Homo sapiens: one gene and its partner. The main gene of each other region encodes a partner of the protein of the gene in region 2 in a complex. Each region holds a gene or a part of one and is shown on either strand. Other genes may lie near its edges.

The links. The genes of interacting proteins can lie anywhere in the genome.
Region 1: the proteins of MKI67 (region 2) and NIFK are in contact, whole or in part, in an NMR structure (PDB 2AFF), measured with the Homo sapiens proteins. Residues at the interface, in NP_002408.3 of Homo sapiens: Thr9, Ile10, Lys11, Arg12, Ser13, Pro18, His19, Phe20, Pro21, Ser23, Leu24, Arg31, Gly32, Ile33, Glu34, Cys35, Asp36, Ile37, Arg38, Ile39, Gln40, Leu41, Pro42, Val43, Val44, Ser45, Lys46, Thr66, Asn67, Ile91; in NP_115766.3 of Homo sapiens: Val228, Asp229, Ser230, Gln231, Gly232, Pro233, Thr234, Pro235, Val236, Cys237, Phe241, Leu242, Arg245, Gln248, Val249, Leu252, Asp256, Lys257, Asp259, Glu260, Ile261, Val262, Phe263, Lys264, Gln265, Pro266, Ile267.

The regions. Positions count from the first base shown.
Region 1 is NC_000002.12:121,733,876-121,741,380, forward strand, and holds the start of NIFK (MKI67 FHA domain-interacting nucleolar phosphoprotein), read right to left. Parts: upstream 3,001-7,505; 5' UTR 2,976-3,000; coding exon 2,871-2,975; intron 1,876-2,870; coding exon 1,738-1,875; intron 1-1,737.
Region 2 is NC_000010.11:128,096,144-128,102,429, forward strand, and holds the end of MKI67 (proliferation marker protein Ki-67), read right to left. Parts: intron 5,559-6,286; coding exon 5,115-5,558; intron 3,113-5,114; coding exon 3,047-3,112; 3' UTR 516-3,046; downstream 1-515. UniProt on the Homo sapiens protein: Protein that associates with the surface of mitotic chromosomes and acts both as a chromosome repellent during early mitosis and chromosome attractant during late mitosis.

The DNA.
Region 1 (7,505 bases), on a different chromosome or scaffold from region 2:
CTTACCTCTTATTGTGAGCCAAAGTCTGCAAAATACTCTTCTAGAAAATTCTGCCTATACCTGTACAAAGATTGTTCCTAGCAGCTTAATCTAAAGAGTTAAAAATATTAAAAAACCTAATGTTCGGGCTGGGCACAGTGGCTCGCTCATGCTTGTAATCCCAGTACCTTGGGAGGCCGAGGTGGGCGGATCATCTGAGGTCAGGAGTTTGAGACCAGCCTGGCCAAAACAGTGTTTAGTAGAAACACTGTTTCTACTAAAAATACAAAAATTAGCCAGGTGCAGTGGCCGGTACCTGTAATCCCAGCCACTCAGGAGGGTGAGGAAAGAGAATCACTTGAATCTGGGAGGCAGAGGTTGCAGTGAGCCGAGATCGCCCCCCAAAACAAAACCTAATGTTCAATAGGAGGGTGGATAAACTTTAGTAACCTAAGTAATGAGCAATGATGATAACAAAGGCAATAGAGTTACATGGATAAAGCTCAGATTATTGAATACAAAAATTCAGCTGAAGAATGATAGAGTAATATAATTTTAAAATAATACCATATGTACATTTATATATGTACACATATGTATTCTAGTACATATATATATAGTAAAAACTTATATATAGCAATGAAAACTGAATTTGTGGCCGGGCGCACTGGCTCACGCCTGTAATCTCAGCACTTTGGGAGGCCGAGGCGGGAGGATCACAAGGTCAGGAGTTCGAGACCAGCCTGGCCAACATAGTGAAACCCCGTCTCTAGTAAAACACACAAAAAATTAGCCAGGCATGGTGGCAGGCGCCTGTAATCCCAGCTACTTGGGAAGGTGACGCAAGGAGAATTGCTTGAACCCGGGAAGCGGAGGTTGCAGTGAGCTGAGATTGTACCACTGCACTCCAGCCCGGGCGACAGTGCAAGCCTCAGTCTCAAAAAAAAGAAAACTGAATTTGTGAATTTAATTCCCTAATTAAAGAAGTTGAAGAGCACTGGGAAGGGTACAAAAGGGACCTCAATTCTACCTACAATCTATCTTTACGACAACTAACAGATGATGGATGTGCACCCTATCCCCCACATGCTAAATCAAATAGGTGTCTATGGCTACAACCAATTAAAGTTTATGTGCGGGGAAAGAAAAGAAAGTGGGTCACTCCTCCACTATTGAAACAAGCTATGTAAAGCGTTTTCTCATTAGAAGGCAGGTATGACACAAATAGTAATTATACTTATATAGTGTTTATTGTGTACCAAGCAATCCTCTAAAGACTTTATATTTAACCTTTGACTAAATACTCCCAGGAAGTTTTACTTATATTTAACAGATCACAACACTGAAACATGGTAAGGTCATATCACTCTAACTAGTAAGGTGTAGAGCCTGACCCCAAACCTCAGCAGTCCAACTCCAGAGTCCTCACCTTTAACTATTCACTATATAAACCTTTGCTATTATAAGGATGCTTGTACCAAAGGCTAACACAAGAAAATGTATAAACCTGGGCCTCATACTAAAGCTCATTTACCAGGACTGTCAATTTAATGTAAGGATTTGGAGAAATGTAAAAAACAAACTTTTACAATAATACTGATTTTGCTCCTGTAGCTGTTTCAGATTCTAAACCTCCTCCACTCTCCTTTTTGGAATGAAATCTGATAAGCAATAATGTATGCGTGAACGTGCTCTTTAATGTCAAGGATAATACACATTTGAAAAACAAAACATTAAATCCAACTGCAAAAATCTTACCCTTTTACTTCTGGACAGCCTGAACCGTGTCACAGTGCCAAACTGGGAGAAATATGAAAAGATCTGGGTTTCGTCAAGTAGGTTAGGTAGGTGGCGCACATAGACTACTCCAGGAGTAAGTTGTTCTTGTTTTTTTCGCTAAAGACGTAAAGACCAGGTAAATTAAATATATAAATAAGAAAATCACATTGTAACAAAACCCCTAGCCCTCGGCCCAAGAACCTATTCTGCATTTCCACTTACCACAGTAGTAATTAAAGAACTGGCTGTTTAGTGTTTCTCTCCCCACAAAGGCCATGGTCAAGCAGTAGTCAACTATCTTTCCAGCCTGGCATCCCAGCACCCAGTATAATATTAGAGCTCAATAACTATGTCAATCAACGGATAAGCAAGGACATCTTTGAACAAGCCATTTTAGATCTTCTGCCCAGAGAACTCTACATAAACGTAGGCTTCAATTTGGTATGCATATTACTGTTTACTCGCACTTCATCGAAAAATTTTCGATACGCTTGTTAACTCTCACGGTACAGATTAGCCTTTCAACGTCTCAGTCATCATAGCCTTACCTCTGTAACAGGAACTTCTAAGTTTTCCTGTGTATTTTATGCTAAAAACCACAGAAAGTATAAGCGATGTCAGGGGCCCTAGTCAGCAAGTGGAACCTGGCAAATACTCTATTTTAATAACTCCCAGATCACCAACCCGGCATACAAACTTCCCGAATGTGTTAAGTCTGGGGCTCCCATTTTTGGGGGAAACGCGGAAGCGTGACAGCTCTAACCCGGAGATAACCTGTGGTATAGGAGCCTATTCCCTCCAGCTGGTTCTTTCTACTGCTTCTGTCACCCCAATACTTCCCCGTTACCCTCCACATGAAGGCTCCAGGGCCTCAGCGGCCAAACCCCTCCATCATTTACCGAACAGCGTAAACCCTTTCGTCTCGGAAACCGTGGCCTGCAAGCTTAAGAGGTCGGTCCCTGATTCGGTCGAATCCACTTGGGAGACCCTGGAGGTAATGAAGGCGAGCACGAAGGCAAGGGGCGCCCGGGCCGGAAACCGTGCAACCCCAGATACCCTCTAGACCCGGTCCATCGCCCCCGCTCGCAGCCTGGGCCAGGGTGCCTGCTCACCTGGGTTATGCGCTTGCGAACCTGCGCCACCTCCTTTTGAAACTCGACATCTTCCTGCGGATTAAGCGACAGGATTGGCCCAGCCGGGCCAGAAAAAGTCGCCATGCCAAAAGCCGCCGACGCTAACCACGCGGCGCTCCCGGAAACGTCGGGCTCCCAGCTCCCCCGAGGCGGAAGTAGAGGCAGGACAGGGGCGGGGCGAAGCGCTAAGGCGAGGCGAGGCGTGGCGAGGGGCGGGGAGGGCCATGAGTCGGGCGCGGGGTTGGAGCAGGAGTTGCCCGGAGAAGCGGGGGCGGGGCACGGGGTGTGGCGAGGCGCGGGGCGGGGCATAAATTGCGCCAGGGGCGAGGGCGGGGCACGAGGTCGTGCCGAGAGACTGGGAGAGGCGTGAGTCGCGCGGAGGCGCGACATGGGGCGTGACGAGGAGCGGAGGGCGGGGCGTGAGTAGCGCCGAGGCGCGGAGGCGGGGCGCAGGGGCGTGCCGAGGCGCGGCAGCGGGGTCTGGGGCTGGGGCTGGGCCGTGGGGAGCTCCCGCACCCTCGGCTGTCGGGGCGCCGGCTGGCTTCGCTTAAGAGTGCCTGAAACAATTACGTTCACGCCTACTTTCAAAAAAGGTCTAAAATAAATTCCAAAACAGTACCTGTGTCCTTGAGATGCTGCTCTCATTCCTCAATTTGCTTATTATTATTATTATTTTTTTTTGAGACAGAGTTTCGCTTTGGTTGCCCAGGCTGGAGTGCAATGGCGCAATCTCGGCTCACTGCAACTTCCAACTTCCGCCTCCCGGGTTCAAGCGATTCTCCTGCCTCAGTCTTCCGAGTAGCTGATTACAGGCGCCCGCCACCACTCCCAGCTTAATTTGTACGTTACCACTCCCAGCTTAATTTGTATGTTTAGTAGAAACGGGGTTTCACCATGTTGGCCAGGCTGGTCTCGAACTCCTGACCTCAGGTGATCCACCCGCCTCAGCCTCCCAAAGTACTGGGATAACAGGCGTGAGCCACCGCGCCCGGCCCTAATTTGGTTATTCTTTCACTCACTTGTGTGTGAGCTCTCCTGTGTGGCCCCGTCCGTCCGCGGCCCTTGGAGAACTTACAGCCTGAGGGCAGCATGGCTGCTTTAAGAGACCAAAGAGGCTTGTGGGGGAGAGGCACACTGGGTGGCGCCGGAGGGTCCCCCTTAGGAGGTGGCGTTAGCACCGAGGCCTGAAGGCTAAAGAGCGGGGTGTGGAGAACCGAGCGCCTGCCGTCCGCTGGACCGGACAGGCCTGCACAGTGTTCCTAGGTCTAGAAAGAAGGACGCGGCAGTGGGGTTGGAGCCCAGCACAGGAGGGAAGAGCTGCGAGGCGGCAGGCTGGAGCCCCATGACTGTGTGTCAAAGTATGAAACTGGGGTTTTGTAAATGCGAGGGGATGGGCGGGTTTAAAGCGAGGCTGTGGCTGTTTGCATCTTTCTTTTCTTTTTTTTTTTTTGAGACGGAGTCTCGTTCTGTCGTCCAGGCTGGAGTGCAGTGGCGCGATTTTGGCTCACTCACTGCAACCTCCGCCTCCTGGGTTCAAGCAATTCTCCTTCCTCAGCCTCCCGACTAGCTGGGACTACAGGTGCACACCACTACTCCCGGCTAATTTTTGTATTTTTAGTAGAAACGAGGTTTCGCCATTTTGGCCAGGCTGGTCGAGAACCCCTGACCTTAAGTGATCTACCCGCCTCGGCCTCCCAAAGTGCTGGGATTACAGGCGTGAGCCACCGCACCCGGCCTGTTTGTACCTTTCAAATACTATTATACTAGTGAGTAACTGAGTGGAGAGGAAGGGTGGGGAGTGGATTGCCGAGGAAGCAGGGAGGTGAGGCGAGAGCGACAGATCAAGCACAGCTGGTGTCAGGGGATAGCTGCGGCCGTGTTCTGGAAGCCGTGAAGGCGGCCCAGGGTGTGTGTGCCCGAAGAGTGGCCTGTGGGCCTGAGGTGGAGGCCCTGGGAGGGAGTGCCAAGCGAGGCCAGCCCACTTCCTCTGACAGACGTGCCTCCCACGCTCACAGTCTTCGCCTCCTTCACCCCTGCACCCTCCGGCTCAGCGCCACCGTCACCCCCAAGGGGGCATCCCTGACCCTGTAGCAAAGTCAGTTCTTCCAGTTAAGCGCTGTCTTCCCATTGTGTTTTCATGGGTAGGCTGGATTTTCGGGAGTGAGCGAGCAAGAGCAATTTGATTCTTTTTCAGGGCTGCCCCTTTCCATGGGCTTGTTCTTGCTCCCCCCAGGATGAAATCTTGGGGAGAGCTCCGCACTTGTGATTGCTCCTCAGATGTCAGTCAATAGAAGCATGTTCCACGCGTTCAAAATCTAATATCAAATGTCTCCTCTCCCCAGCTCAGTGTCTCTGGCAGAGAAATCCCCAAAGGGGAGCACAGTCCACATCGTCTTTATTCTTGGCTCCACTTTCTCTGTACACCCCAGTTTCTGTTTTTGGGCTTTCCAGGATTAGGACAGGGAAGAGAGGGAGGAGAAAGCAGAAAGGGGCTCCTTGCTGGCAGGTGCCACGTGGCCAGGGAGTTTTAGAGGCTGCAAATGCCAGGTTGCTGGCACCTTGTCTCCAAGCACACTTTTGAGGTGTCCCTCACCTGGCTGCTCATGACTCTACCTGCCTGCCAGCCGAGGTCAGCTCTGTGCCCAGAGGCTCCTCCTGGAAGGGCCTTTCCAAGTGGACTTTATCATCCTGATCCTTTAAGAAGGGCCACATGTTTTGTCTGTCACTGCCATGGGATTGCTGCCAGGCAGGCCTCCTGGCTGGCATCACAGATGTTGGTGTATAAACCAGGTACAATCCCTGTATCCCCCAAATTCCAGAGGATGTAGATAAGTTCACTGGTTCCCTGAAGGTACCATCCGTGTCCTCGTGTGTGTGTGCGTGTGTGTGTGTGTGTGTGTGTGTGAACACTCCCCTCCTTCCTGAAGGTGGAATCTTGACATGTCTCATAGCTACTTAGGGGAGATGAGGATACAGGAAGGAATGACGGCAAGCACTTCTCTATGGAAATCCTTTTTCAGGTATTCCCAGTCACCTCCACCTCTATGAGTTCCTGGTCTTGCCTTACATCCCCCCAGGGGGGTAGTGATCCAAGGCTTCTCAAACTTGAATGAGCATGTGGATTGCCTGCACCAGGCAGGTGCTGATTCAGTAGGTCTGAGGTGGCCCAGGTTCTGTGTTCCTAACAAGCTTCCAGAAGAGGCCGATACTCCATAGACCACACTCCGAAGCAGGAATAGAGATTTGTGGCATTGATTACTGGGTCAGAATTCTGGGACAGAATGTATTCTGTCACCCTCAAAAGATTTGTTCAAGTCCTAATCGCTGGTACATGGGTACATGTGAATGAGACTGTACTTGGAGAGTCTTTGAGGATGGAATCACATTAAGATGAGGTCATGACCGGGCACGGTGGCTCACGCCTGTAATCCCAGCACTTTTGGAGGCTGAGGCGGGCAGATCACTTGAGGTCAAGAGTTCGAGACTAGCCTGGCCAACATGGTGAAACTCTGTCTCTACTAAAAATACAAAAATTAGCCAAGCGTGGTGGCATGTGCCTGTAATCCCAGCTACTCGGGAGGCTGCGGTGGGAGAACCGCTTGAACCTGGGAGGCAGAGGTTGCAGTGAGCCGAGATTGTGCCATTGTACTCCAGCCTGGCGACAGAGCAAGATTCTGTCTCAAAACAAAACAAAACAAAGATGAGGTCCTGTTGGGTTTGCGTTAGCTGTAAACCGTGACTAGTGTCCTATGAGAAGAGAGCATTTTGGGCGTGCACATATGCAGAATGCCATGTGATGGGCAAAGCAGAAGTTGGAGTGATGCTGCCACCAGCATCCACAATTGTGAGAGAATATGTTTCTGTTGTTTTAAGCCTTTCCGTTTGTGGTAAGTTATCCTGGCAGCCACAGGGAAAAACACAGTTGCTGTACAGGCTGCGTGGTCTGAGGACAGCACCGGTCCTGGGCCTGTCTTGGTATGTCGGGTTCTCGTTGCGTGTTAGGGCAGGTCCTGGAGGACCTCCGGGATGCTCACAGATGGATGCCAGGCCCCCTCTCCTCCTTCCCTCCCTCTCTCCCTTCCTTCCTCCTTCCCTTTCTTCCTTTTGATGTTTTTGTTTGTTTGTTTGTTTTTAATTCTTCCTTCTGATTTTGCATGTAGATGGGGAGCTACTGACACTTTGGGTGGGACAGTTCTTCACTGAGCTGGACCGTCCTGTGCACACTACTTTTGTACCCTCATCCCCTGCTCATTGTAACAATCAAGATGCCTCTGGGCATTTCCATACAGCCCCGAGCAGACTATTGAGTCCTCAGTGTGTGTCACCTGCTTCTCTTCCCGCACGAATCACCCAGGCCTCCTCCACCCCCCATGCCACCCCACCCTTATCACCTGTGGCCTGGAGCACCTATTGGGGGCCAAGCACGGAAATTGAGGAGGGCCGGTGGCAGGGCTGGGCAGGCAGCAGGGTGAGGCAGGGCACATGAGAGACCAGGAGGGAGAGGGCTCTCTGGGGTGGGGCTGAGGTTCCCCCTACTGCTCAGCCCTGTCTCCCTTCCCCCTCCTGTGTTCCTCTCCCTCCCCACCACTCTGCCTGGTCCCTGTGGGGTTGCCT
Region 2 (6,286 bases):
TTCACCAGACTGACCACCGAGCACGGCTCTCCCTCCCTCCTCAGCCTCTCAAGATGGTAGATGCACCCACCTGCAAACTTTTCTCTCCGACAGAAAGGCCTCTTCTTCAGGACTAACTGACCTACCGCAGGCTACTGCCCCTGGAACTTGCCAGCAAATTCACTCCCGGGATCCATGTCAAATCAGGGTTGCCAGAGGAAAGTCAGGGCATGTATTTTCATCTGCTGACTTGGGGCAGCCCTGGGTCAAATCCCCATCCCTCAACTCAGCACCTCTGTTGCAACAAAGCAGGCACAGCTGCGGTTGCAGGTAGTTCTCGAGATACAGCAGGCCATTCCTGCAGGACTAAAAGCAGCTGCGATGACTTATTGGCCAAGAGAGAAAATGACCATCCAGCCAAGTCCTTGTAGAAATGAAAATGGAACGTAATGAACCAGTCTCTCTTACACTGGCCTGTCTGCCCCACCCACACTTAGTTTCTTTCCCCACTCTCCCTATAATAAAAATACCATGGGTTTTAAGACCATTTCATCACATACTTTATTGGACATCTCCTGTGGCTGGTCACTGGGATAGAGTAACCAGGAAATGCAGTCGGCCCTCATGAATGAACAAAACTTACAACCCCAGGAGGGGAGCCAGAAACTCAATTAGTGGCTTAGTTTCCACAACACTACGTGCTACAAAGAGGTACAGAACAATTCCAGGCAAACTAAGAACCTGCCCCAGCCTGGAGGACAGGCATGGGGGTGAGGGAACCCACAGGCAAGAAGCCTCCCTTAAGCTGAGCTCAGGACTGGATGAAATGATCTTGGTGGGGCAGGAGGGAAAGTTCCAGGCAGGGAAAACAGCAGGGAGTGTGTGGTGGTTGGAGGTGCCTGCCTAAGGGAGGCAGGAGATGGTAGGTACAGAGTTAGTGTAAGAAAGCCCAAGAGAGGCTGGGGGACCAGATCCCACAGGCCCTGGGAGGCGAAAAAGTAAAAACAGCTTGTATTTAATGGGAATGTCCTATTACATGGAAATTCACTTGGAAACTGAAGCTCAGAGAAGTTACCATACCATGGTGGAAATGGGTGGGTATTTGTTCTCAAATCCAGTCAGCCTAGGGGAATGGGCAGTATTTGTCAGATCTCTCCCTCCCCCAGTACCAAGGAGGGTTGTGTAGAAGTGGTGTTCATCTATTAAACACGGGGGTAGCCCTTAAATGAACATTTTTAACCCATCATCAACAGCCCTGTAAAATGAAAACCACCCTTAGCGTGCTCTTGAAATACTGTACTTACCAGGGTGAGAAAAGGTGCTGACATACTTCAGCAAGATTTCTGGTTAGAGCTGAACTCTAAAGGATTTTTCTACTAAACAGAATATTCCACTCCACAGGCATATGGCTGGATGAAATTTTTCTATGTGAGGTTCATAATTACTACTAAGTCTAAAGTGTTAGAACAACTTGATCATAGCAACATTCCTACTGAAAGTTTTGAGGTTGGCCTACGTAGAAGGAAGCATTTATGCCTCACACCTTCCAAAGTGCCTCTGCTAAGAGCCACTCTTCCTTGAACACCCTCCCCTGTTCTGCCCTGGTGCAATCCCTGTACCCTTTGCAGCCCTGTGAAGCCCTCAGATGTCCCCTCCCTGCCCCTTTCTATTCCCTCCCTCAAGCAGAATGTCATTCTCCCTTACGATCATGGATGACGCTGTGAGAACCCTATCATGGCAGCCAATATAGTACAAGTCAGTACCGCTGATTTCTGCATTCATTCAGCAAGTATTTATGATGTCACCTGGCTCCCCGCCAGACACTGGGGAAACAAACGTGGAGACAGGGCACTGCCCGCACAGGGCACATTTTGGGGGACAGCTACCCTGTCTGGTGCACCATCCTCACCTGCACCTGGCAAGGTGGGTGAATGGGGAGGAATCCAGACAGGTGACCTGGGGGATGGCGGGCTATTCTCTGATTTGGGGAACACAGAGAGGACAGGGGGCAAAGTGGAAAGTAAATGAAGATGAACGAGTTATATCTACAAGTCTGAAGCTGGAGAAAGATGTCTGGGCTTCAAAGGAGATTTCGGAGGCAGCGGCTCACAAGGAAGCGATCCTGAAATCGTGGCTGAAGGTGCTGAGTGCTCAGTCTCTCCAAGGATGATGATGCTTTACAGAGTACTGGTGTCACTTCCTGTACTGGGTGGCATCGGGCTGCCAGATAGAGTCAGAAAGAAAACAGGCGGGAGCAGAGCCAGTAAACTTCCGAAGCTTTCAATGACAGGAAAGCTGGAGATTAGGAGCCAGTTTGAGGTCGTGATGGCCCACAGCCTGGGACCCTGAGATTCCGCGGGTGGAGAATGTCTCAGGTGAGAGCAACCCTAGTTAGAAAAGTATTCCCAAGAGACCAAGGCAAGCCACGAGTCACTCCTTACAGAAAGTCACTCTTGGTCCCTAAAGATGTGCTCACGAGTCATTCTCCAAAGCACAAAACTTTATTTTCAGAAAGGAAAGGACATCAAAAATAGGACTGTCCTGTGCAGATGTCCAATAGCCTTAATTTGGGGACCAAATGCCCCCGGCCATTGGAAAGACAGATCTTGTAAGCTCCATTCATCCGTGCGCTCATCCATTCATTCGTGTTTACCGAGTGCCTGCTCAGTGTTGGGACAGACGAGGATAGTTGTTCCTGCCACCGTGCCCTGGAGGACATAGGCAAACAAACGACGACACAGTGTGGCAAGTGTCACAGTTAAGGCTGCTGTAGGGTGGCTGTGGGTGGTGACAGACCTCAAGGCTTCATTCTGCAAAGCTGAGGGCAAACCTTGGCCCAGACTCCTTCACAAAGCCCCCGGTGTTCAACTATTCTCAGTCCAGGAGCCCAGCAGTGCTCCCAGTGGAGTTTATGAAGCCGATTCAGACCCAGCAAATCCAAAGTTTTCTTCCCTTAAGCAGACTGACAGCCTTACTTACAGAATTCACTTGTAATTTATGACAAAAACTGCACTAGAACTTATCACAAAACTAACTTTATTATATTTTTCCCAGTTCGATTTTTCTGTCAAATATCTTCACTGTCCCTATGACTTCTGGTTCTTATTTTCTTGACACACACATTGTCCTCAGCCTGTGTGGGAAGAAAAAAAATAGAACTCTTAAGTAATTTAAACACCCATTTTTAGAATCGACCTCCTCTGCAAAACCCCAAAGGCTTACTAGGTATTATGCAGGTCCTTAGTTGCAGAAAATTAATTTTGAGGTTGGAAATAAGTTTTAAAATATATTCCATTAACATTGTTTTTCTTGACTTGAACTGCTTTTATTATGCAGTTTTTTTACACTTAAATAATGTGATCTTTTCATACAGAAGTTCCTAATGCATTTTTAAGCTAATTCATAATAAAATTTCTTCATCGATGCACACATTTTCACAAACTAAAAAATGTCACTCAGAAAAAGTGAATCCAACCAGGATTAAGTCTTTTGGGTCTCCTAAACCAAGGAACCCCTGTAGACAGAAGCATGCCCAACTTGCATGCAGGAGACCTGCCTTGGCCTTTACTCTTGCAGTAGTTCTCACCCCTTGGCTAAGGGAGAGGAACCATGGTGAAAAGCATGGCTACAAGCTTCTTACTGGAAAAAATCTATCTTATATATGCATTTTCTAGGACTACCGACACCCACCGAAGAGCTCGGCAAAGAGGAGCATGTGTGTGTTGGGCGTCTCCTGGGTGCTTGTGTGTGAGAAGAGGCTGGAACGCCCCCGGCAGAACACACCAGGCCTGGCTCAGCCTTGGGCCTGGTTGCTCTGTGTTTAGGAATCATCCTAGTTAAAAGATTCGCTTTCACCCTTCTTTGGTTTCATTCTGAGGAAGCAGCACCTTCCAGACTGTGAATTCGGTAAGCGCCTGGAGCCTGCGTTTTATTGTAAGACTCGACGGGTGAACGTGCTGACCCACGTCAGCTGTTGCGTCCCTGGTGTGCCTGTGGTTTCTAGGACCTTGTCTGGCACTGTCGGGTGTCTTCTGCTTCCAGCCTGCCCCAGAAGTACAGTCTCTGACTTAGGACACCTGTGTGGGCATCAGTGCCCTTCTTGAGCCTCTCCTCTTCCCTCTCTGGAACAGTCTATGGGCATCTCCCCACTAGGACTTCCTGCCCACCATCCAGACACACAAGCCCTCCCCCTCCACTGGCTGCCTGGCTATGCAGCAGGTACTGGGGACACCTGGGAATCTTTCCTTTTCTTGGCAGTTGAAGCTTCCTAGTTTGTGCCGAAGAGGGTCTGTCTGGACAGCTGTACTTGCCAGAATTCTGTATCTGAAGAGGTTATTGCTACATGAGTTTCGTTTGCTGAACTCAGAATATGGTAGTTTTAGGTCCAAATTTTGTGTGTGCTAAGAATTAAATTTATATTATATTTTTGTGAATTGCTCACAAAAAGGGAGCAATTCAACCTATTTTTATTTTAGCTAAACCAAGTATTCCCCAGAAGAACACTAATGGAATCTAATCATTCTTATGGATTTGTCCACATGCTTGTAATTATGAGTGGCTCAACTTGATGTGATTTCAGTAGCACTTAAAGTTCATTAGCTTAGATAGTCTCTGGCTGGAGGAGGGTTGGAGGGCAGACGCATCCCCCACTGACCAGGAACTCTCACATAGTGAGCATGTGTCTCAGGGACATCCCAACTTCTGTTCCTTCTGCCTTTCCAAAGAATGCCTTGGAAATTTTTCTGTTTCAATAGTTTTTTTTGGAAAAAGAATTTTCCTGTTTCAAGAGGTGATTTTGAACTACAGAAAGGCTGAAGACATCTACCTACAATTGTATCATGAGGTACATCATAAGCAGTCAGAAATTAGCCACTAGACAAATTCCTTTTCTTTCTGAAGAAAGTCTTCATAACGTGAATTTGCTATTTGAAGTGAAATTCCCAAAGTAGACACAACAAAATATAACTAAAATGACCAAATTTATGTCTTAGCATAATGCTCCTTCCATTAATGTAACTGGGAGCTGGCAGAGTGCTGTTGAAGATAATGCTTTTTGTTTGCCTTTGCAACCTTGGGCAAAAAATACATCAAAACATTCTGTGTCTTTTAAAACAGGGAAACAGTAAATGGCTTACCTTCTTTGGATTTTCTGCACACCTCTTGACACTCCGCGTTACTCTCTGCACAGATTTGCTCTCCAAAGTGCTTGCTGCAGGCTGGCTTTTTGTCTTTCTTGATCTCAGGCACATGGAGTCTGAATTTCCTGCTTCTCCTTTCCCTTTCTGATTCTGCATGAGAACCTTCGCACTCTTCTGCCCTCCGCTCTCCTCTGCCACCTTAGGCTGGGAGCTCTCATTCTGTCTAGCAGACCTCAAGCACCTTTTGTTCTCAGTGACTTTGTCTCTAGGTATGGGTTTCCGGGCTCCATCATCTGGATTCTGAATGTCCATCTCTGGGGAGGTCTTCATGGGCTTCTTTTCATTTCTGTTTATTTCTATTCTTTCTGCTAATACAAAGACCTCAGTTATTTGCTGTTCTGCCTCAGTCTTATTTTGGCGTCTGGAGCGCAGGGATATTCCCTAAAGAAATGAGAAGACATCCACAAAATTCCAATAATTAGTAAAACAAACTTCAAAATTCAACAGGGAGCACAATCAACAGTAACCTAAAAGGAGAAATCATTTGAAAATCACACACTGATGAATTGTCTAAGAGACTTGTCATCTAGGATAGTCAAGGTAATGCCTTGGTACTTTGCTCCTATGGAGAAATGACTGTCTCTGCTGACAAATTATAAATAAGGAATTCAGGATAAATTTCAATAACAATGCCTAATAAGATATATATCAAATCTAATTTTTACAGTTTACATTATAGAAAGAAGGTCCGTTATTCATTCATTTACAGGGAGTAAATGAATTCCTATTCCTTTAACCATCACTGCTAAGGCAGAACAGGAAATTGCCATTTCTGGAGTTTCCCCAAACTTCTCTGCATGCAGTGGGAGCCTCTCTATCTAACAGTCCAGACAGTTTCCCCTTCTCAAGAATACACATTCCTTATTGATATTGTTCTGATAGTTAAAATAGTGACATAGATAGGATTTTTAACCCAGTCCTGGTCTTGGTGACAGTATCCAGAACATAGAACTGAACCACCCACCTATCCTCTGATCAATTTTTTAAACATTTGAAGATGAACATTACTCATTTGGCTTTTGAGAAACTCTTCTAAGTTTGCATTAATCATGTTTGACTAGTTCTTTTCCCATATTAGTCTATTCCCTCTATAGGTCCCAAGAAGATTC